Regions from separate parts of the Homo sapiens genome. Here region 2 is linked to region 1. The links come from fine-mapping of genetic effects on gene expression. A gene starts in region 1. The other region holds a variant in brackets. All regions are shown on one strand. Distances are from middle to middle.

Region 1 (8,378 bases):
TCCGGAGGCTGAGACAAAAGAATCGCCTGAACCCGGAAGGCAGAGGTTGTGGTGAGCCGTGATGGCACCATTGCATTCCAGCCTGGGTGGTTAAGAGTGAAGCTCAGTCTCAAAAAAAAAAAAAAAAAAAAAAACATCAACAAAAAAAACCCCACAAACAAACAAACAAAAATGACATAAACACCAAGGAAAGTCTGTTTTCTCTAAATAGTCACCCAGGCTGGAATCAGTGGCACGATCTCAGCTCACTGCAACCTTTTCCTCCCAGATTGAAGCGATTCTGCTTGCCTCAGCCTACTTGAGTAGCTGGGATTGCAGGTGCACACGACCACACCTGGCTAATTTTTGTATTTTCAGTATTTTTAGCAGAGATGGGGTTTCACCATGTTGACCAGGCTGGTCTTAAACTCCTGACCTCAAGTGATCCGCCCGCCTCAGCCTCCCAAAGTGCTGGGATTACAGGCGTGAGCCACTGCACCCAGCTACTGTTGTCTTATTTATTTAGAGACACGGTCTTGTTCTGTTGCCCAGGCTGGAATGCAGTGGCACGAGCATGGTTCACTGCTGCCTTGACCTTCCAGGTTTAAGCAATCCTCCCGCCTCAGCTTCCTTAATAGCTGGCACTACAGGTGTCCGCCACCACACCAGGCTAATTTTTTTTTTTTTTGTAAAGATGGGGTTCTATGTTGTCCAGGCTGATCTCAAACTCCTGGGCTGAAGTGATCCTACCCTCTCCGTCTTCCAAAGTGCTGAGATTACACACGTGAGCCACCGGCCTTTCCTTGTGTCTTACTTAAAAGTAATACTCGGCCGGGCGCAGTGGCTCACGCCTGTAATCCCAGCACTGTGGGAGGCCAAGGCAGGTGGATCACCTGAGGCCGGGAGTTTGAGACCAGCCTGACCAACATGGTGAAACCTTGTCTTTACTAGAAACATGAAATTAGCCAGGCGTGGTGGCACATGCATCCAATCCCAGCTACTCAGGAGGCTGAGCCAGGAGAATCGCTTGAACCCGGGAGGCAGAGGTTACAGCGAGCCAAGATCGCATCATTGCACTCCAGCCTGGGCAACAAGAGCGAAACTCCGTCTCAAAAACAAACAAACAAAAAAAGTAATACTCTACTATGCTTCAGCTAACTTTGGACAGAGCACACAGGGAGGGGCAAGGACGCTTTAAACAGTATCTGGGAAGTGGGGCCACTTACCTGATAGGCATTTCTAAGGAATAGAATGGATTCTTGAGGGCAAAGTCTGAGTAAATCTCATAAATCTTTCGGAGAAGAGAATCTATTCCAGCTTGCCTAGGATCTGCTAGAACCACAAACTTGATCCCTGGAGAGAGACCAAGAATGGTTACCAAAGCGTAGACACTGGAGCAAATAGTGTCATCCTGTATTTGTACAGCACTTTCAATTTTGCAAAACACTTTCATAAGCCTATTTTAATTTTATTCTTTTTACCACATAATGCAGGAAAGGCAAGACTTTGAATCTACCGATGAGACCAGAGAAGTGAAGTAACTTTGTTATGTCACCCACCTGATTAAGACCAGGCTTTGAGTTCTAGCTCTGCCACTTACTAACAGTTTTGGAGTCCCTCAGCAGAAACATTGCCAGGCAGGGGACAAAGTCAGGCAGTTTTCAATAAATGAAGAGGGTGAAGCAATGACACTGGCAATCCAAAGGTCATATCCATTTTGCTTTCAAATTTCATTTTGGAAAAACACTTAACACCTTCCAAAGTACACGCAACAGGAAATAGCATTAAGGTGAGTTTTATCTGAACACAAGATAACCTCTGCTGAACATGCTGGGTGGCATGGACAAAATCAGTTTCAGATTAAATATTGGTTTTGTATTCACAAAACAAACAAACAGATGTGTCTATAAAATTGTGCCAGGAAGGCCGGGCGCGGTGGCTCATGCCTGTAATCCCAGCACTGTGGGAGGCAGAGGCAGGTGGATCACCTGAGGTCAGGAGTTCGAGACCAGCCTGGCCAACATGGTGAAACCCCATCTCTCCTAAAAAATACAAAAATTAGCTGGGCGTGTGGCGGATGCCTGTAATCCCAGCTACTCAGGAGGCTGAGGCAGGAGAATTGCTTGAACCCGGGTAGTGGTGGCTGCAGTGAGCCAACATCGCGCCACTGCACTCTAGCCTGGGTGACAGAGCAAGACTCCATCTCAAAACAAGACAAAACAAAAAAACCCCACAAAAAATTAGCTGGGTGTGGTGGCGGGCATCTGTAGTCTCAGCTACTTGGGAGGCTGAGGCAGGAGAATTGCTTGAACCCAGGAGGTGGTGGCTGCAGTGAGCCAAGATCATGCCACTACACTCCAGCCTGAGTGGCAGAGTGAAACTGCATCTCAAAAAAAAAAAAAAAAAAAAGAACTGTGGGTCGGGTGTGGTGGCTCACGCCTGTAATCCCAACACTTTGGGAGGCGGGCAATCACCTGAGGTCGGGAGTTTGAGACCACCATGACCAATATGGAGAAACACCATCTCTAATAAAAACAGAAAAATTAGCCGGGTGTGGTGACACATGCCTGTAATCCCAGCTATTTGGGAGCCTGAGGCAGGAGAATCGCTTGAACCCAGGGGGCGGATCATGCCCCTGCATTCCAGCCTGGGCAACAAGAGTGAAACATTTCAAAAAAAAAAAGAATTGTGCCAGGAAAAGCACACCCCCTCTTCTTGCTTACCAAAGGTGTCTTTGGTCAACCCCCTCCTCCCACCTTCTCCACCACACTCCTCTGGCCCACCTGGAGATGCAAACTTATCAGTATCTCTTCCCCACCTTCTCCATCACACTCCTCTGGCCTCCGTGGAGATGCATACCTGTCAGTGTCTGGTAGCAGTGCAATTTGAATGTGTCTGTCTCCAGCATCTCAATGCCTGAGCTTCCCTGTTCAGGAGACAGCTGGGAGCCGATGGCAAAGAGCCTATATGCAAAGGAGGCAAAGTTGCTCTAAGGAAGGAGTGCTTCTCAAACTTCCACTGAAGTGTCCCTATTTGCTGAGGAGTTCACATTACAGCCTGGGACAGTCAGGAGAAGTAGTGTGAACTGACTGGCAGTAGTGTCAAAATTTCTAAGTTCATTTGAATTCTGTGAATATTTTACATTCATACTTTGTTACAAGACATTTTACATCTAAAACTTTGGGTAAAATGAATACTCTAGGAATATGTGCCACGCTTACTAAGCTTGTGTTTAAGCAAAGGCCGGCACATCTGATATCACAATTGAGAGCAGAAAAAGTTTAAAGGTCATTTAGTTAAACTGGCTTTCTTTAAATATGAAGAAACTAAGGCTCAGAGAAGAGAAGTTGACTTTAAGTAAGATGACACCTCGGCCGGGCGCGGTGGCTCACTCCTGTAATCCCAGCACTTTGGGAAGCCGAGGCAGGTGGATCACCTGAGGTCAGGAGTTTGAGACCAGCCTGGCCAACATGGCAAAACCCCTCTCTACTAAAAATACAAAAATTAGCTGGTCGTGGTGGCACGCGCCTGTAATCCCAGCTACTCGGGAGGCTGAGGCAGGAGAATCGCTTGAACCTGGGAGGCAGAGGCTGCAGTGAGCCGAGATCCCGCCACTGCGCTCCAGCCTGGGTAACTCCGCGGCCCCTCCCCACCCAGCAAAAAAAGATGACACCACTGCCGTTATTACCTAAAATCTAGATCTGGATCGGTTGCGTTTTTCATAACACCAGAACGACGATTTAAGAAAAGGTAGACAAATTACAAGCGCTGCCGTTCAGGAGACGGGGGACTTACGAGTGGAACATGGAGGCCAGCATAAGCTTCTCATTAGAAGTGAGGCGGGGCCGGCCAAATCGAATGGACACCGGGTAATTAGCAGGGTTACCCAGATACTCCAGCACCTCTTTCCCGTCGGCCGTGTACCTGCCATTCACGTCCATGCCATTGATGGCCAGCACTGCATGACCCACTGCAGAGGTGAAGCTAACGGTCAGCGAAGGTGCAGCCCGGGGATTCCGCCGAGGGGACAAGGGACCCGACACAACCCCTTTTCCCCCAACCCCGCACCTACAACCAGCCCACTTCTACAGCACTGGGGCCCTCCCACCCCCGCACCCGCCACGGGCCCGAGCCTAGCCCACCTCGGATGCCGTCCCGCTGGCCGAAAGCAACCAACACACGCTCATCGTGTAGCTTGAGCAGCAGATCCAGCGGATAACTGAAAGTTTTCTCAGCCTCAGCCCGTGGCGCGTAGCTGTCCAACTGGTAAATCAAGCCGCCAGCTTTGTTCACCACATACACACTAAAAATCGCCATCGCTGCCTTGCCGCTCGGAAACTGGTATTCAGCCTCTACCCGACGGCCCCTCCCCGGAACCGCATCACAGCACTTGCCGCCGGCCCCACCCCAGCCTCCTCCTCCTCCTCCTCCTCCTCCCGCGCCCCCCGTGCAGCCACCTGCTGCACTTGCGCACTGGGAGCGACACGCTCGGGCATAAGTAGTGCCGGAAAGTTAGCTGCCGAGACCTGGTGGATTGCTTTTCGTTTATCAGTGCAGGAAAACAGCGCTATAGTATGCGTCACAACTAGCGCAGACTCCGGCAGTATTTAGGCGGTGCGGCTTGGGAACTAGAATCCACTTCCTGTCTTCCGCCTCAGGCTAGAGGGCGAGCGCTTCGCCGTGGGACTTCTTCTGCCTGGCTCCGCCTTTTGCCCCGGAAGTACTCACAGCGGACGGTGGTTTTTGGGCCCGTTTCTGAGCAGCGCTTCCTTTTTGTCCGACATCTTGACGAGGCTGCGGTGTCTGCTGCTATTCTCCGAGCTTCGCAATGGTAAGCTTCAGGGGTGTGAAGTCGCCGGCGTTCTTGGGTTTGAGGACTCAGTGGGGAGAGCCTTCGGCGGGAGCGCTCCTTGGCCTGCCGGCCTCGGTTGCAGGGCGGGCGCGGTTATTGCTTGGCCCATGTGCTCTGGTGGTGGAGTTTGCGGGGGCTGAGGGCGCAGTATTAGGGGACTTTGGCGCTATTTGAGGACCTGGTTGCATTCCCGCTGCCCTCCTACAGCCGCCTAAGGACGACAAGAAGAAGAAGGACGCTGGAAAGTCGGCCAAGAAAGACAAAGACCCAGTGAACAAATCCGGGGGCAAGGCCAAAAAGAAGGTAGAAATAAGACCTCTCTGAAAGAGACTAGGGGTAACTCTCTCGTAATCCTCTAGTAATAGGTAACTTGTATAGTAAGTGGTTTTTCAGGTGTAGATTTCTAGAGTCAAAATGTGAGAGTTTATCTTCCCGTCACCACTCGTTCTTTTTCCCATTAGGATCATGAAAATGGGTCTGTTGTGCGAAGTGTCTGCCGCTGTGCCTGCTGTGTTATTTTTAACTGATCTAGTGGGGCTCGGCCCCTGTTTGAAGGCCAAAAACGTGTCGGTGTTTTTTTTTTGTTTTTGTTTTAGTAATGTGTAATTTATCCTTGATAACGGTGGAACAGATTTCTCTGACGCAGATTACTCGAGAGGGAAAGGGTGCTTCTGCCAGAAATACTAACTTGTTTCTGTTTTGTTTTGGTGAGCAGAAGTGGTCCAAAGGCAAAGTTCGGGACAAGCTCAATAACTTAGTCTTGTTTGACAAAGCTACCTATGATAAACTCTGTAAGGAAGTTCCCAACTATAAACTTATAACCCCAGCTGTGGTCTCTGAGAGACTGAAGATTCGAGGCTCCCTGGCCAGGGCAGCCCTTCAGGAGCTCCTTAGTAAAGGTGAGGGGTGTATCCTACATGTGTGTTTTTGTAGGTTAAATTGTCTTGACCATGTTAAGCATCTTCAGTGGTTTTGCTGGAAAAGCAGAATTAAAAAAAAAAAGCGTGGCTTGACCATTGGCTGTTAGTAATGTAATTCTGACGTCTTACTCCTGATCCTGAGATGAATTCTCAGGGTTCTTAGCCACTTTTGTGCCGTGGACCCTGTGGCAGTTTAGTGAAGCCCAAGGATCTTTTATGTTTCGAGTAAATGGATGCATAGAATTACAGGGACAACCGTTTTTGAAATAATTAGATTACTATTTTGAAACAACTTTGAAAATGTTTAAAACCTTTATGGTAAATATTTTGTTGATGTATTAAATTTTAAAACCAGAAATTTAGTACGGTCTACTCAGTAGTATGGTCTGATTACCATAATTCCACAATAATAAGGCTCAGCTAACTATAGTGACTGAACGTCTATAATTCTAGCACTTTGGGAGGCCAAGGCGGGTGAATCAACGGAGGTCAGGAGTTAAAGACCAGCCTGGCCAATATGGTGAAAACCTGCTCTACTGAAAGTTAGCTGGACGTGGGGGCACACGTCTGTAATCCCAGCTACTCAGGATGCTGAGGCATGAGGATCCCTTGAACCCAGGAGATGGAGGTGGCAGTGAGCCGAGATGACACCACTGCACTCCAGCCTTAGTGACAGCAAAAGACTGTCTCAGAAAGGGGGGGGGGGTGGAAGATAATGGAGCCCTAATTTAAAGGAAAAGTAAGGATAGATGATCGTTAAAAACTAGGATTCTCGGTTACCGAACGTCAGATTAAGCAATTCTGGAGCCAGGTGCAGTGGTACCCTTGTATTTCTAGCTACTTGGGAGGCCAAAGCAGGAGGATCATTTGAGCCAAGGAGTTTTAAGACCATTCTGGGCACCTCTGAGAGAACTCTGTCTTTTTGTTTTCCTTTTCTTTAAATAGAGATGCGGTTTTGCCATGTTGCCCAGGCTGGTCTCCTGGGCTCAAGAGATCCACCTGTCCAAAGTGCTGGGATTACAGGCATGAGCCTCTGCACCCGGCCAAAACAAACCTTACTAGAGTCTCATTCTGTTGCCCAGGTTGGAGTGCGGAGGGGCAGTCTTGGCTCAATGCAACCACCAATTCCTGGGTTCAGGTGGTCCTCACCTCAGCTTCCCAAGTAGCTGGAATTACAAGCATGTGCCACCATGCCCAGCTAATTTTTGTATTTTTGGTAGAGATGGGGTTTCACCTTGTTGGCCAGGCTGGTGTGCAACTCCTTACCTCAAGCTATCTGCCCGTCTCCACCTCCCAAAGCAGTGGGATTATAAGCATGAGCCACCGCGCCCAGCCAAAAACCTTACTAGTTTCTATTGTAGCATCTGTTAAGCATCTCATCGTGCTATTCTCTCCCCCTAGGACTTATCAAACTGGTTTCAAAGCACAGAGCTCAAGTAATTTACACCAGAAATACCAAGGGTGGAGATGCTCCAGCTGCTGGTGAAGATGCATGAATAGGTGAGTAGGAATGTGTGGGCTCATGGTGTAGGAGGTAGATACAAAGCTTTATGGTTCTGATTCTTTTAATTTTTTTTTACAGGTCCAACCAGCTGTACATTTGGAAAAATAAAACTTTATTAAATCAAATGAATGAGTATGTCTGTTTCCTAAGAAAGACAATGATAAAGAATTTGGTGGAAGGTATAATAGGGGTTTGTTGACTTTGCTTTTAGCCTCATGGTAGTTGGTAGAGAGCATGATTAGCTTTTTTCTGTATGTGACTGCTTCTTCATTGCTGCAGCTTCAGTTTTGAATTGATGTCTGAAAGGAAATAAAGGGTTAACACGATGATGAAGGGTGACATCTCCAAAAAGGAGGTTGGATGGGTAGGTTGGAGACCCGGCACTGAACACACATACCTGGACTGCCAGCGGCGTCCATTATTCCAGACGCGGCCAAAAGAGGGCAGCCAGCCTGCACTGGTCCTGGAGCTGTGATCAAAGTTGGCCCCAACTCGGTCTGGGGGGAGTTTTTTCAACTTCTGTTTTTCCTCTGTACAATGATAGGGAAACTTTTATTTTTCTTTATTGAAGAATATAGAGATGGGGTCTCACTATGTTGTCCAGGCTGTTTTCAAACTTCTGGGCTCAAGTGACCCTCCCACCTCAGCCTCCCAAAATGCTAGGATTATAGCCATGAGCCACCACACACAGGCAAGGAAACCATTTTTGAGTGTGAAGATTTAGACGATCCTCTCTTGAATTAGTTTACTTACTTTCTTTAAGAAATTCTTCATAGGATGGTCCTATTTCTTGGTTCCCAGCAATGTATTCTTCATCTTGGATCATCCAGGGAGGTGTGGCACCTGAAAAAAAAATTAAGGCTTTTTTTTTTTTTTTTAAGTCTTCAGGCTATTGTGAAACATGTCCTAGCTGTTAGCTTACCTCTCCTCATTAAGAGCTAGAAATGTCTAAAAGCAAAGCCCAGGAATTCTGGAGCTTTAGAAGGCCCTAGGCTAATTTAAAGCGACATACCCCATATGTGACAGTCATTTTAAAATGGCTTTGAGGCACAACTGACATAAACGATACACACTTAAATTTGGTGACTTTTGAGCGAAGCCATTACAATCTAGACCCCAAACA
Region 2 (15,782 bases), 36 kb after region 1:
GGGCAGATTGCTTGAGCTCAGGAGTTTGAGACCAGCCTGGGCAACATGGCAAAACCTCTTCTCTACTAAAAATATAAAAAATTAGCCAGGCAGGATTGTGTGTGTCTGTGGTCCCAGCTACCAGGGAGGCTGAGATAGGACGATTACTTGAGCCCAGGAGGCAGAGGTTGCAGTGAGCTGAGATCTTACCACTGCATTCCAGCAAGACTCAGTCTCAAAAAAAAAAAAGAAAAAAAAAAAAAGAAAAATTGTAAAAAGCAATTTCTTGTAAAAAACAAAAACTGTACAGAGGCTACAAACAATTGCCCCATTTATGTTGCCTACCCAGTCCTCAAAGATGGCCATTGCTCTTTGACACCTATATTGATCAAGATGTTTTCTCTGTTTAGACTTCATATATATGTGAACATAATTTCTGCCATATTTGGAGTAATTTTGAACACACTGTTCTCCTACTCTTTTTTAATTCCTCAAATTGTATTTTGGTTATCTTTTTTTTTCCTTTTGAGATGGAGTTTCACTCTTGTTGCCCAGGCTGGAGTGCAATGGTGCCATCTCAGCTCACAACAACCTCCGCCTCCCGGGTTTGAGCGATTCTCCTGCCTCAGCCTCCCGAGTAGCTGGGATTACAGCTATGCACCACCACGCCTGGCTAATTTTGTATTTTTAATAGAAGCAGGGTTTCTCCATGTTGGTCAGGCGGGTCTCGAACTCTCGAACTCAAGTGATCCACCCGCCTCGGCCTCCCAAAGTGCTGGGATTGCAGGCGTGAGTCACCGTGCCTGGCCTTGTGGATATCTTTCTATGTCAGTACATAGAACTTGATATTAAGTGCTATCTATATACTGATGACTCTCAGTGTATTTACATTTTCAGCTCAGACTTCTCTTCTGAACTCTAGACTTATAAATATCTACTTGACATTGACATAACCACCCTGATGTCTCACAGATTCCTTTTTTTTTTTTTTTTGAGATGGAGTTTTGCTCTTGTTGCCTAGGCTGGAGTGCAATGGCGTGAGCTCAGCTCACCACAACCTCCGCCTCCTGGGTTCAAGCTCAAGCAATTCTCCTGCCTCAGCCTCCCAAGTAGCTGGGATTACAGGCATGTGCCACCACACCCAGCTAATTTTGTATTTTTTTTTTTTTTTTTAGTAGAGACGGGGTTTCTCCGTGTTGATCAGGCTGGTCTCGAACTCCCCACCTCAGGTGATCCACCCACCTCGGCCTCCCAAAGTGCTAGGATTACAGGCGTGAGCCACTGTGCCCGGCCCCACCCCCCCGCTTTTTTTTTTGAGATGGAGTCTTGCTCTGTCACCCAGGCTGGAGTGCAGCTGTGTGATCTCAGCTCAGGGCAACTTCTGCCTCCTGGGTTCACGCAATTCTCTTGTCTCAGTCTCCTGTGTAGCTGGGATTACAGGCGCGTGCCACCACGTCTGGCTATTTTTTTTTTTCTTTTTCTTTTTTTGAGACAGTGTCTAGCTCTGTCACCCAGGCTGGAGTGCAGTGGCGCGATCTCGGCTCACTGCAACCTCTGCCTCCTGGGTTCAAACGATTCTCCTGCCTCAGCCTCCCAAGTATCTGGGATTACAGGCGCCCGCCACCACGCCCAGCTAATTTTTGTATTTTTAGTAGAGACAGGGTTTCACCCTGTTGGCCAGTCTGGTCTCAAACTCCTGACCTCATGATCCGCCTGCCTCAGCCTCCCAAAGTGCTGGGATTACAAGCGTGAGCCACCGTACCTGGCTAATTTTTGCATTTTTAGTAGAGACGGGGTTTCACCATGTTGGCCAGGCTGGTCTCAAACTCCTGAACTCAGTGATCCTCCCACCTCAGCCTCCCAAAGTGCTGGGATTATAGGTGTGAGCCACCGCCCCTGGCCTCACAGATTCCTTTTTTTTTTTTTTTAATTGGAGACAGGATCTTGCTCTGTCACTACTCAGGCTGGAGTGCAGTGGCACAATTATGACTCACTGCAGGCTTGATCCCCCTGGGCTCAAGCAATCCTCCCACCTCAGCCTCCCAAGTAGCTGGGACCACAGGCACACGCCACCACGCCCAGCTTATTTATTTTTTGTAGAGAGGAGGTCTCACCAGGTTGCCCAGGCTGGTTTCCAACTCCTGGGCTCAAGTGATCCACCCACCTCTGCCTCCCCAAGTACTGGGATTACAGGTGTGAGCCATCGTGCCCGGACTTGTCTCACAGATACTAAACACAGAACGCTCAAACCTGCTACTCCTGCAGGCTTCCTCTCCTCACCATTCACCTACTTGCTCAAACCAAAAACCTCAGAGTCATTCTTGCCTTTTCCTTCTTTTTTTTTTTTTTTGAGACAGAGTCCCGCTCTGTCACCCAGGCTGGAGTGCAGTGGCGCGATCTGGGCTCACTGCAGGCTCCACCTCCCAGGTTCATGCCATTCTCCTGCCTCAGCCTCCAGAGTAGCTGGGAATACAGGCGTCTGCCACCACACCGGCTAATTTTTTGTATTTTTAGTAGAGATGGGGTTTCACTGTGTTAGCCAGGATGGTCTCGATCTCCTGACCTCGTGATCCGGCTGCCTCAGCCTCCCAAAGTGCTAGGATTACAGGCGTGAGCCACCACGCCCGGCCATTCTTGCCTTTTCTTCTCCTGCAGTCACTACTATTGACTTGTTTTTTCGACCTCCACGATGCATCATCAAATTGTTCTTCTCCCTGTCTCCATCTCTACTGCCACTACTCCTCCAACCGGCCTGATTTACCGCAGTCACCTCCTAATGGGTGTTCCTGCTTCCATGTTGGCTTCTCCCCACAACAAGCCACTTTCAATGAATGGCTAATTGTGATTAACAACGACAACAACAAACAGTTATGTAAGTTACTTCAATTACTTTCCACCATACTGGAAAAAAATCCAAATGCCCTGTCATAGCCTAGGAAAGCCTACCCTGCCCCTCTCCCAGTTTTACCTTGGATCTTTCTGCCCTTGTTTAGTGTATTCTCTCTTCCATGGTCTTATCCCGTTTGCTCAAAAGGCCAAGGTATGTCTCTACCTCCAGGGCTTTGTCCATTCTAATGCCTCTATTAGAATGCTTTTCCTCCGGCCTGGGGCGGTGGCTTATGCTTGTAATCCCAACACTTTGGGAAGCCAAGGCAGGGAGATCACGAGGTCAGGAGTTCAAGACCAGCCTGGCCAACATGGTAAAACCCTGTCTCTACTAAAGGTACAAAAAGTTAGCCGGGTGTGGTGGTGTGCCCCTGTAATCCCAGCTACTCGGGAGGCTGAGGCAGGAGAAGCTTGAACCCGGGAGGCAGAGGTTGCAGTGGGCCAAGATTGTGCCATTGCACTCCAGCCTGGGTGACGGCACAAGACTCTGTCTCAAAAAAAAAAAAAAAAAGTAAAGGAATGCTTTTCCTTTCTGTTCTTCAGCCTGGCTAACTTCTCCTCATGCTACAGGTCTCAGTTAAAATGTCACTTTCTTAGAAAGGTCCTCTCTGATCTCCCCTCCAATCTAAATTAGATGCCAATATTGCTTTCTCTCAAAATAACTCCATCTTTTTTTTTTTTTTTTTTTTTGAGAAGGAGTCTCACTCTGTTGCCCAGGCTGGAGTGTAATGGCATGATCTCTTCTCACTGCAACCTCCGCCTCTCAGGTTCAAGTGATTCTCCCGCCTCAGCCTCCCGAGTAGCTGGGATTATAAGCACCCACCATCATGTCCAGCTAATTTTTGTATTTTTGTAGAGACAGGGTTTCACCATGTTGGCCAGGCTTGGTCTTGAACTCCTGACCTCAGGCGATCTTGCTTTGGCCTCCCAAAGTGCTGGGATTACAGGCATGAGCCACCATGCTTGGCCAATAACCCAATCTTTACTCAATATTACCATTGTGCATTATTGCACATAATTAGTGTATTGGTTTAGTATCTTTACATCTAGACTGAAAACTGTGAGGAACCATTTGGGTTTCTTTGCTGTATCCCTAACACCTGGCAAGGGCCTGGTATAGTGAAAATGCGTAACAAATAATTGTTGAAGTCTAGGCACGGTGGCTCACACCTGTAATCCCAACACTTTGAGAGGCTGACGTGGGTGGATCACTTGACCTCAGGGAGGGTACAAGACCAGCCTGGGCAACATGGTGAAACCCCATCTCTACTAAAAATACAAAAATTAGCAGGACGTGATGGCACATGCCTGTGGTCCCAGCTACTCAGGAGACTGAGGCAGCAGAATTGCTTGAACCTGGGAGGTGGAGGTTGCAGTGAGCCGGGATTGCGATCCTGCCTAAAAAAAGAAAAATAACAAAATAATTGATAAGTGAAAACTAGGTGCAAGTATAGGAGTTGAGAGCAAAGTGGGCAAAGGCAGATTTTTTCTTAGTAAACGCTGTATTGTTTTGTACTTTCTTTCTGATCTGCTGCATTTTGGGATCCACTTGCAACTTAAACCTGATGTTGGCCAGGTGTGGTGGCTCACACCTGTAATCTAGTACTGTTGGAGGCCGAGGCGAGTGGATTGCCAGAGCTCAGGAGTTTGAGACCAGCCTGGGCCACATGATGAAACTTCGTCTTTAGTAAAATACAAAAATTAGCCAGATACGGTGGTGCACGCCTGCAGTCCCAGCTGCTTGGGAGGCTGAGGCAGGAGAATCGCTTGAACCTGGGAGGCGGAAGTTGCAATGGGATGAGATTGCTCCATTGCACTCCAGCCTGGGCAACAGGGTGAGACTCCATCTCAAAAAACAAAAACAAAGCAAAAAAATCCCTGATGTTAACAAGAATGTGCACAGCGATAAGGCTGTATACGAAGTGCAGATGATGGGGACAAATTGAGGCCAAATCAGATGAAAGCAGAGCTTGGGACTCAGGACCCCTCCTTCCTGGGAGCTGAATAGACTCGGGTGGCAGGAAAGAGGCTCTGGCTGCCGGATAGCTCTGGGTGGGCCCAGAGCAAATGACCTGACCTGGTCCCCCTCACCCACTCCTGCAGTGGCTATCACTTAGAAATCAGCATCCAGGCTGGGTGCGGTGGCCACGCCTGCAATCCCAGCGCTTTAGGAGGCCGAGGCAGGTGGATCACCTGAGGTCAGGAGTTTGAGACCAGCCTGAACAATACGGTGAAACCCCATCTCTACTAAAAATACAAAAAATTAGCCGATGTGGTGGCGGGCGTCTGTAATCCCAGCTACTCGGGAGGCTGAGGCAGGAGAACTGCTTGAACCCAGGAGGTGGAGGATTGCTTGAGTCCAGGAGTTCAAGGCTGCACATGAACTGTGATTGTGCCACTGAAGGGCCCTATCTCAAAGACAAAACGAAAAATAAATAAAAATTTAAATGAGGAGGCGGGAGCTACATCAGATTGGAGTTACCAGCAAGGAAAGCAGGGAGGAAAAATGAAAAAGTGAGACTACCTCAACCCTGGTCAGTTGCAGAGACCTGGGAGCCCTCTGGACAAGGGAGCCACTCTCTCAAGAGTGAAGCACCACCCACTGCCACTTCAAGACAGGAGTTATGCCCAGCCCAGGTGGGCAGTGGTGGCCTTGAAGGCAGAGCTTTGTTTCTGTGCAGGCCTGTTGGGCAGGAGGGAAGAGCGGAGAGGGAGTGAGATCTGGCATCGTCTCTAAGCACTGAGTGTCTGTGGGATCCCTAAACAGCCCTGAACCTCACTCATTCCTTCCTTGTCCTCAGGCTTCTCCCTATTCCCCACAGATCTAAGGCTGCCAGCTGTCCCTGCCCTGAGGCTGTCCCCTGCAACCAGGGAGGCCACAGCCCCCCAGCTGGGACCTGCAGCCTCAAGGACTCTTATTCCACAAGTAGCTTTTCCTGAGGGTGTGCTGGAGACAAACAGCATGGCGAAGGGTAATGAAACTCAGGCCCTATTTTTCTTTTGAGACGAAGTCTCCCTCTGTCACTCAGGCTGGAGTGCAGTGGCGTGATCTCTGCTCACTGCAACCTCCACCTCCTGGGTTCAAGTGATCTTCCTGCCTCAGTCCCCGAGTAGCTGGGATTACAGGCTTGTGCCCCACGCCTGGCTAATGTATTTTTAGTAGAGACGGGGTTTCACCACGTTGACCAGGCTGGTCTCCAACTCATGACCTCAGGTGATCCGCCTGCCTTGGCATCCCAAAGTGCCAGGATGACAGGCATGAACCACTGTGCCCGGCCTGAGAGAGGAAGATTTTTCTACAGAAGTATTTCAGCTAATAAGCTAAGAAAATAGAAAATTAGGGCCAGGCACAGTGGCTTACACCTGTCATCCCAGCACTTTGGGAGCCCAGGAGTTTAAGACCAGCCTTGGCAACATAGGGAGACCTCATCTCTAAAAGAAATAAAAATTTTAAAAAGTTAGAAAATTAGGAATATGATTCCTAATACATTTTTAAAAATTTTGGATGTGATTTTTTTTTTTTTTGAGACGGAGTCTTGCTCTGTCGCCCAGGCTGGAGTGCAGTGGCACGATCTCAGCTCACTGTAAGCTCCGCCTCTCAGGTTCATGCCATTCTCCTGCCTCAGCCTCCCAAGCAGCTGGGACTACAGGCGCCCGCCACCACGCCCAGCTAATTTTCTATATTTTTAGTAGAGACAGGGTTTTACCGTGTTAGCCAGGATGGTCTCGATCTCCTGACCTTGTGATCCGCCCACCTCGGCCTCCCAAAGTGCTGGGATTACAGGCTTGAGCCACTGCGCCCGGCCTGGATGTGATGATTGTATCATGTTCAGTCTTTTTAGAGAAAAGAAATGATGTCTAGAAATTGATTCAAAATAATCCAGGGAGGCCAAGGCAGGTGGATCACTTGAGGTCAGGAGTTCAAGACCAGCTTGGGCAACATGGTGAAACCCTCTATTAAAAATACAGAAATTAGCTGGGCGTGGTGGCGCTCACCTGTAATTCCAACTACATGGTAGGCTGAGGCAGGAGAATTGCTTGAACCCGGGAGGCGGAGGTTGCAGTGAGCCGAGATAGTGCCACTGCATTCCAGTCTGGGTGACAGAGTGAGACTCCGTCTCAAACACACACACACACACACACACACACACACACACACACACACACACACACACACAATAATTCCAGGAAAGGGGAATGAATGTGTTAATAACATTGCCTGTGGGGAGATGAAGCTGGATGACAGATATGTAGGGTTCATTAGACCGACTTTGTATGTGTTTGAAATCTTCAGTCAACAAAATATCAGTTGGCTAGTGCCTGTAATCCCAGCACTTTGGGAGGCTGAGGCAGGCGGATCACAACGTCAGGGCGATCGAGACCAACCTGGCCAACATGGTGAAACCCCGTATCTACTAAAAATAGAAAAATTAGTGGGGCCTGGTGGCCATGTGCCTGTAATCCGAGCTACTTGCTAGGCTGAGACAGGAGAATCGCTTGAACCCGGTAGGCGGAGGTTGCAGTGAGCCGAGATCGTGCCACTGCACTCCAGCCTGGGCAACAGAGCACGACTCCCATCTCAAAAAAAAAAAAAAAATCAAACCAAACCAGGTGGATTGCTTGAGCCCAGCAGTTCAAGACCAACCTGGGAAAGAGTGAGACTCCATCTCTACAAAAAATTTAAAAAATTAGCCGGGTGTGGCCGGGTGAGATGGCTCACACCTGTAATGCCAGCACTTTGGGAGATAGAGGCACGTGGATCACCTGAGGTCGGAAGTTTGAGACCAGCTTGACCAACATGGAGAAACCCCATCTCTACTAAAAATACAAAATTAGCTGGGTGTGGTGGTGCATGCCTGTAATCCCAGCTACCTGGGAGGCTGCAGCAGGAGAATGGCTTGAACCCAGGAGGTAGAGGTTGCAGTGAGCAGAGATCGTGCCATTGCATTCCAGCCTGGGCAACAAGAGCAAAACTCCGTCTCAAAAAAAAAAAAAAAAAAAAAAAA[T/AAAT]TAGCCTGGTGTGGTGGTACGCACCTGTAGTCCCAGCTCCTTGGGAGGCTGAGGTGGGAGAATTGCCCGAGCCCAAGGAGTTCGAGGCTATAGTCAGCTCACACCTTTAATCCAGCACTTTGGGAGGCTGAGCAATTGGACATCTACAAGCCAGAAATGAACCTTGACCATACAGAAATTAACTCAAGAGGCCAGGTGTGGTGGCTTACGCCTGTAATCCCAGCACTTTGGGAGGCCAAGGCGGGTGGATCACCTGAAGTCAGGAGTTGGAAACCAGCCTGGCCAAGATGGCAAAACCCTGTCTCTACTAAAAATACAAAAATTAACTGGGCCTGGTGGTGCATGCCTGTAATCCCAGCTACTAGGGAAGCTGAGGCAGGAAGATCGCTTGAACCTGGGAGGCGGAGGTTGCAGTGAGCCAAGATTGTGCCACTGCACTCCAGCCTGGGCAACAGGGTGAGACTCCGTCTCAAAAAAAAAAAGTCACCTGCTGGGTGTGGTGGCTCACACCTGTAATCCCAGCACTTTGGGAGGCCAAGGCAGGTGGATCACCTGAGGTCGAAAATTCGAGATCAGCCTGACCAACATGGAGAAACCCCGTCTCTACTAAAAAATACACAAAATTAGCTGGGCTTTGTGGTGCATGCCTGTAATCCCAGCCACTTGGGAGGCTGAGGCAGGAGAATCGCTTAAACCCAGGAGGTGAAGGTTGCGGTAGGCCGAGATTGCACCATTGCATTCCAGCCTGGGCAGCAAGAGTGAAACTGTCACACACACACAAAAAAGTCATCTGTAAGCTTTAAAAACAAAACAAAACAAAACAAAACATGGCGCCTCCCCAAAGCACCTTTCTATGCTCCCTTAGCAAATGCCCTCAACGCTATTGCAGCTAAGAGAATGCAGCGCAGTTCTCCCTGGCACCTGTATTCTATCCTGAGCTTGGTACACAGTAGCCACTTAAGGAGTATCAATTGAATGAATGTGTGGTGCTTACAGAATTGGCTGCTACAAACGGGCATCTCCCAGAATAATTTTTACAGATGGAGTCTTGCTGTTGCCCAGGCTAAAGTGCAGTGGTGTGATCATGGCCGACTGCAGCCTTGACCTCCTGTGCTCAAGGGATCCTCCTGCCTCAGCCTCCCAAAGTGCTGGATTACAGGTGTGAGCCACTGCATCCAGCCAAGATTATCTTCATAATCCAGAAAAATGGAAATTGCTCCAAGATGCTTTAGAAGGCTGTGCATTTTCCTCCTTTGAGGAAAGAAAATTACGGACTCCCTTTGCTGCACGGCAGGCACCTGCCCCATTGCCTCAGGAGCATCTGTAAGCTGAAGGCATTCCATCTCCAACCTTGGAGTTGATCTCCACCTCCACCCTTAACCCCATCCTTAGAGACCCCACCTCCACAGACACACACAGAAGGCTAGTGAGGGTAATTTTAATAAAGCATTAGCTGGCTGTTGCTTCTTGGGGTTAAAGATCAAAGAGGAAGGGCATCACATCTGTAAGAAAAGGAGAGAGTTCAGGAGTTTATACTTCACAATTGCTGTTTCCTAGGCCTGGGATGCTCTCTCATAGCAGGTCATCTGCTTCTTTCACTCAAGGCTCAAATGCTGCCTCTTCTCTGAAGCCTCCCTGCACTGCTCCAGGGAAAGTAGAAGTACTCTTTGTACATAACCTCTATTAACTGTGCTTCTCATGTTGTGTGCTCACTATTGCCTAGACTGCTGGTCTTGGTAAGGCCAGTTGCCCCTTAGTTGTTTGCCCATGGATTCCTGGCACATCACGCCCCACACTGGTGGGGGAGGTCTCACCTCAGGCAGGCATCACCTGAGGGTCTCAGATCACTGTTAATCTCCCTGTTTCCTATAGAAGATGCATTCCCCCACCCCCACGGTGTGACCCAGGCTTCCACACTTGGCCTTGGGTCAGGATCCTCAGGTCTCTTCCCCTTGGGCCCACGCACAACAAGTCTTCACACCTGGCTGGCTCATGCACTGTTGGATACTTTCTAGCCGAGTGGAAGCCAAGGCGCGGGCCTCCTCCGCAAAGCGGCGGTGTCCCTCCTCGGTCAACTTCCAGAGGCAAGATCGAGGCCGTGTGCTGGCCCCGCCCTGCATGCTGACAGGCACTTTCTCAAAGCTGTCTCGAAAACAGAGATTGTGACGGACAGTATTCTTCCAGCCTTCCGGGGCCGTCCGGAAAAAGGGGAAGTGCTTTCTATGGACAGGGAGGAGAGGTAAGGAAAGGCATGTTATGTCTGGGGAATGCCCTTCTCTGGGGCATGTTCTACCCAGGGGCCAGGGGCTTTAGCCCTTCTCTCCAGGGGGATAGTAGCAAGTTGGCCTGGAGTTGCTCTTTGCTAACTGAGCACGTGGCAAAGCATCCACGTGGTGCGTGGCTCACCTGAACCCTCCCTCCCTCTGAGGGCCCAGGGCTTGGACCACAGCATGAACAAAGCAGAATCAGGCCAAGCAGCTCCTGTAAGAGGAATCTTGGTTGAGGACGGACACCACTTGAAAATTCCTGTCCTGAGACATTAGGCACTTCTCCTAACACTGGGAAAGGGCCCAAGAAACTCCCTTCCTCACCCTCCTGTGAGCAGGACTATCTGAGCTAAATGGAAAATCCTTCTCAACTGGGTTCTCTGCACCCCTGGGGGTGCAGGGAGCTGTGCCAGGCAGTCCAGTCCTAGCAGAAGCAGGTGGGAACCGTTGGGGAAACCTGACTTTAGACTGGCTGATCTTCAGAGGATGGTGGGGAAACTGTTACCTGACCCAAGTGAATGTATGTTTTAAAGGAGAACTATACCCAAAGAACACTGAAAACTTGTTAAAAAGAAAAAAAAAACTAAAGCCATAAAATGTGGGCACAATGTGGGCACAAATGCACCTGGGAAAAGGGAACTGGGAACATACTTGTCCTCTCAGACCCAGATAGGGAAACCAGGTCAGCAACCCAGGGCCTGGGATGGATTGGAAGGCATCAGCCCGGGGCCCTGGCCCCCACTTCCCCCTCCTCGCAGGGCCCCCGGCACATACCGAGTGAAACTGTAGATCTGTTGCACGTTGAGGCCACAGGGGGAACTGTTTCTTAATGCCAGGGCAATTAGGTGGAAGTAATTGAGAGGGGGCCGGGACCAGAGCCTCCCCGCCTGGCTGCTGGCTTGCCGAAGCCTCCGACTCTGGAGGGGGGCCCTTTTGTGAGGGGATGGGAGAGCCATAGAGGAGCTGTCTTCCTGGTCCTCAGCCTCCTCCTCTTCTGTGAGCTAGAGGAGCACAGAGTAGGAACTGGTCCTGACTCCTCAGCCTCTACTCCAGGGTGCAGTGGCAGGAAGGGGGGGTGGTCTAAGGCCACCATTTGGGCTTCTCCCCAACCCAAGCATGTAGGTAATTTCTGAACCCATTCACCTTTTGCTATGGCTAAGAGAGCAGAACTGTAATGGCTCTTCCCCATGCCCCTCGCCTACTGCCCAAGTCCCACTCCCATCCCCAAAAATGCATACCTCCCAGGTGCTGGGGGAAAAGGCAAACCGCTTCCGAGGGGGAGACCGCTTGCTGGAGGACTGGGACAGTGATTCCACCCCTGCGGCCTCTGAGCAGCTGGCATCTTCCTCCTTCTGGGGTGGCTGAGAGGAGGGGAGTGTGCTTGTCAGGTCCTCCCTCTTCCTACGTCCTGAGACCTCCAGCTTTCCAGGGGGATACACAATGTTGGGATTTACCCACATCCAGAGGTTGGGCTCATAATCTGGACCTGTGCAGAACAAAAGATTGTGTGCCACAGCCCACTGGCTTTGGGTGCCCCTGGTCTCCAGCCCAGGCCACAGAAACAGGTCAGAGAACTCAATACGTACCATCCTTATCAGGGTTGGGTTTTTTCTCTAGGGGTAATTTTGGTGGCTTAACAATTCGGAGTTTATACCTGGCAACTGGCAAAAAGAAAGACAGAGAGAGTCAAAACATCCTAGAATATCCCTTTGTGACCCTAGGATCCTAGGCCTTAAGGCTTCTCTGGGAGAAGGTTGTGGGCCCTGCCTTGGGAGTTAACATCACATTCTACTTCTACGGGTTTTCCCTTTACCTCTCTGACCTTCTCATTCCCCTCTGCATTCTTTTCTTCTCACTCTACGTATACTATCCCTGAATGATCTCATGCATGTCCGTGGCTTCAGTTAACATCTATAAAAAAATGTAGAGCTCTCAAATCTTCACCTCTAGCCTAGCATTCTGTGCTAGCCCTTAAGGAGAACTACCTACTGGATGTCTTTACTTGGGTAGCCCACAGGCACTTCAAACGCACTTCTAAAACTGAATTCCATCTTCTTGCTCTTCCTCCTGTATTCTTGTATTTTTTTTGAGACAGGGTCTTGCTCTGTTGCACAGGCTGGAGTGCAGTGGTGTGCTCAAGAGATTCTCCCACCTCAGTCTCCCAGGTAGCTGGAACTACAGGTACATGCCACTGCACCCCACTAATTTTTGTATTTTTTTTTTTTCAGATGGAGTCTCGCTCTGTCGCCCAGGCTGGAGTGTAGTGGCGCGATCTTGGCTCACTGCAACCTCTGCCTCCCAGGTTCAAGTGATTCTCCTGCCTCAGCCTCCCAAGAAGCTGGGACTACAAGCGCACGCCACCACACCCGGCTAATTTTTGTATTTTTTAGTAGAGACGTGGTTTCACCATATTGGCCAGGCTGGTGTCGAACTCCTGACTCATGATCTGCCTGCCTCACCCTCCCAAAGTGCTGGGATTACAGGCTTGAGCCACCGCGCCCAGCCCAATTTTTGTATTTTTTGTATAGATGAGGGTCTATGTTGCCTGGGCTGGTCTCGAACCCCTGGGTTCAAGCAATCCTCCTGCTTCGGGCTCCCAAAGTGTTGGGATTACGGGCGTGAGCTACCATGCCTGGCCTTCCTGTATTCTTTGTCTTAGCAAGTGGCACCACCATTAATGGTTGTTCAGGACAAAAACTATTTTTGCCCCCTCACTGTCCCTATGAGTGTCATTATATTACAGATGAATCTAGGCTTTTGTTTGAGAAATGATATACTTATCGGAGAGCTCAGTAATTAGAGAGGATGCCTATTATGTTGCTAATATTCAACATAGTATTCAAAAAAGGAAAAAGTAGCAAAAGATAGAAAAATTGGGGTTTTTTTGGAGACAGGGTCTTGCTTGGTTGCCCATGCTGGAGTGCAGTGGTGTGACACCGGCTCACTGCAATCTCCACCTCCCAACTCAAGCAATCTTCCCATCTCAGCTCTTAAATAAAGAACTTAAAATACTTGAACAAAGACTTATAATACATACTATTAAGATGCCAGTTACCCTCAAAATGAATCTGTAAGTTTTATGCACATATTATAGCACAAAAATTAAAGTTTGGCCAGGTGCGGTGGCCCACACCTGTAATCCCAGCACTTTGGGAGGCCGAGGCAGGTGGATCACTTGAGGTCAGGAGTTTGAGACCAGCCTGGCCAACAAGGTGAAACCCCATCTCTACTAAAAGTACAAAAAATTAGCCGGGCTTGGTGGTGTGTACCTGTAGTCCCAGCTACTTGGGAGGCTGAGGCAGGAGAATCACTTGAACCTGGGAGGCAGAAGTTGCAGTGAGCTGAGATCGTGCCACTACACTCCAGCCTAGGTGACACAGCAAGACTCTGTCTCAAAAAAAAGTTCTAACATAGTAAAAATCACCATAAGCAAAAAACAAATAGACAAACAAACAAAATAGCAAAACTTCAATCCAAATTTCTCAGTTCTCTGATACATAGAGAGCTCCTACAAATCAATATGTAAAAGGTCAACACAAACTTAGAAATGGACAAATGATATGAATCAGCATTCACAAGGAGGGGATAACTGAATGGCTAACGAGATGATCAGCATTATTAATAATACGAAAAACACTGTAAGATAATGAGATAATCAAATTGACTGGAATTATAAAGATAATACCAAGTGTTGAGAAACATGCAAAGAGACAGAATCTCTTATTTTACTGCAGTTCTGTGTATCAACTGGAGCAGCCCTTGTTAAGAGCAATCAGGCAGGACCACAATTTACTCGACCTTACTGTCTGCTCCTGGATGTATATATTCAAGTTAATACAGGAACTTATATACTAATCAATCTCCATTGTTACTACCATCTACTGACCTCCTGGTTTAGCTGTCACTCTCCAACACTACTCCTGCCTTAAATCTTGGCTGCTGGCCAGGTGCAGCGGCTCATGCCTGTAATCCCAGCACTTTAAGAGGCTTAGGCAGGCGGATTGCTTGGGCCCAGGAGTTTGAAATCAGCCTGGGCAACATGGTGAAACCCCATCTCTATAAAAAATACAAAGATAATAATCTAGCCGAGTGTGGTGGCGTGAGCCTGTAGTCCCAGCTACTCAGGAGGCTGAAGTGGGAGGATGGCTTGAGCGGGAAAAGGGAGGTTGCAGTGAGCCAAGCTTACGCTATTGCACTCCAGCTTGGGCAACAAAGCCAGACCTTGCTTCAAAAACAAAAACATGATCTTTGCTATTTATTGAACTCTTCTCCAGCGAGTTTGACTTCTACTCTACTGTGGACACTCCCTCAGGCATAACCTAAACCAACAACTGCAACCTCTCCGTAACCTCATTTATGCACCACATAAAAACGCACCACCTCGTGTCTTTCTGGCTAACTCCCTCAACCCCAACTATGATCCCACTGAGGTCACCAGTCCACTGAATTATGGTTTTGGCGCACTCGTTTGGCAGAGGTGGATTTAGTCAGGGTTGTGGTTTGGCCAACAAAGTGCTCCAAAGCCACAGATGATCCAGGGAACCTGCGTAATATCTGACCATGGGATTCAAGTTAGTTAAATAAGGGTGGACATATCAAGTGATTGAAACAGTGAAAAGGTGATAGGATCAATGGACTGGTGATCTCATTGCGACCCAAGGATAGCACCTTTGTATGTCTGTGTCTCTCTTTGGCACAGATCCCCCATGCTTTTTCAAGGATGTTGTTCCACAAATCTTCCCCTCTCTTTCCTGTGTCACTAATTTTTTGTCTTTGTTGGGTCATTCTCATCAGCATGCAAACATGCTGTTAATTCTCCCATTTTAGGGACCAGGTGCAGTGGCTCATGCTTGTAATCTCAGCCTGCTTTGGAAAGCTGAGGCAGGAGGATCACTTGAGCCGAGGAGTTCAAGGCTGCTCAAGGCTGCTCAAGGCTGCTCAAGACTGCAGTGAGCTGTGCTGGTGCCACTGCAGTCCAGCCTGGGCACCAGATAGAGACCCTGTCTCTAAAAAAAAAAAAAAGAAGAAAGAAAAAGAAAAAGATTATCCCATCTTATTTCCTGTTGAGGCATAACACATTGCCTCTACTTCCCCTCCTTCTACTCTTAAACCCCCTTCAGTCAGGTTTTTTGTTCTACCACTTACTAAAACCACTAACCAGGGACCTCTGCTTTGTTAAGTCCAATCATCACTTACATTCCACTCATCCAACCCCTCCCTCCTTGAAAGGCTTTTTCCACTTGGTTTCCAGGATACCACAGACGCCCTAGTTTTGATTCTCAATAGTCTTTTTTGCTAGTTATCTCTCTTCTCTCCAATCTCTTTACAATGGACTGCCCCCAGGGCTCATTCTTGTTCCTCCTCTATTCTTACTCCTTAAGTTCCACCCATATACCAAAAGACCCAAAATTTACATCTGCAGTCCCCACTTCTCTCCAGAACTCCAGGCTCATGTATCCAACTGCAGACTCAATGCTTCTACTTGGATGTCTAAGGATCTCCAGCTCAGCATATCCAGAACAGAATTCCTGATCTTCCTTCCTAAACCTGTCTCCCACTCAGTACAAGGCAACTCTATCCTTCCACTAGGTCAAAACACTTTGAAGGCTCATACTCAATTGTCTGTCTTATACGCCATATCCAA

Which allele goes with the higher level. Positions count from the first base shown, and alleles are read on the strand shown. Sizes are in standard deviations (SD) of each study's normalised expression.
As copies of T replace AAAT in region 2, the expression in regulatory T cells of the gene that starts at base 4,749 in region 1 goes up (large effect, 1.5 SD a copy in Schmiedel 2018).

Evidence for each region. PIP is the estimated chance that this variant, and not a neighbour inherited with it, causes the effect. A credible set is the group of variants that fine-mapping cannot tell apart.
Region 2: its variant is the best candidate, but not a certain one, in a credible set for the expression of RPS25 in regulatory T cells (Schmiedel 2018, PIP 0.75).

The regions. Positions count from the first base shown.
Region 1 is chr11:119,014,714-119,023,091 of GRCh38, reverse strand. RPS25 (ribosomal protein S25) reads left to right here and starts at 4,749. Exons shown (of 5, transcript NM_001028.3): 1 at 4,749-4,810; 2 at 5,039-5,134; 3 at 5,547-5,730; 4 at 7,153-7,251; 5 at 7,334-7,375. The coding sequence starts at 4,808. The coding sequence ends at 7,247. CENATAC (centrosomal AT-AC splicing factor) reads right to left here. Exons shown (of 11, transcript NM_198489.3): 9 at 8,009-8,098; 10 at 7,653-7,785; 11 at 7,299-7,554. The coding sequence ends at 7,494. It overlaps TRAPPC4 (trafficking protein particle complex subunit 4), which reads right to left and starts at 4,326. Exons shown (of 5, transcript NM_016146.6): 1 at 4,122-4,326; 2 at 3,775-3,949; 3 at 2,839-2,942; 4 at 1,206-1,332. The coding sequence starts at 4,296. RefSeq lists enhancers at 3,755-4,453, 4,708-4,937, 4,958-5,027 and a silencer at 4,348-4,467.
Region 2 is chr11:118,974,799-118,990,580 of GRCh38, reverse strand. It overlaps FOXR1 (forkhead box R1), which reads right to left. Exons shown (of 6, transcript NM_181721.3): 2 at 11,725-11,799; 3 at 11,377-11,624; 4 at 10,913-11,139; 5 at 9,853-10,091; 6 at 9,294-9,373. The coding sequence ends at 9,345. Among named protein-coding and RNA genes, the nearest start is that of FOXR1, 11 kb to the right of the region's middle. RefSeq lists enhancers at 9,404-9,921, 9,922-10,440. The variant T/AAAT (reference allele first, on the strand shown) is at 7,872.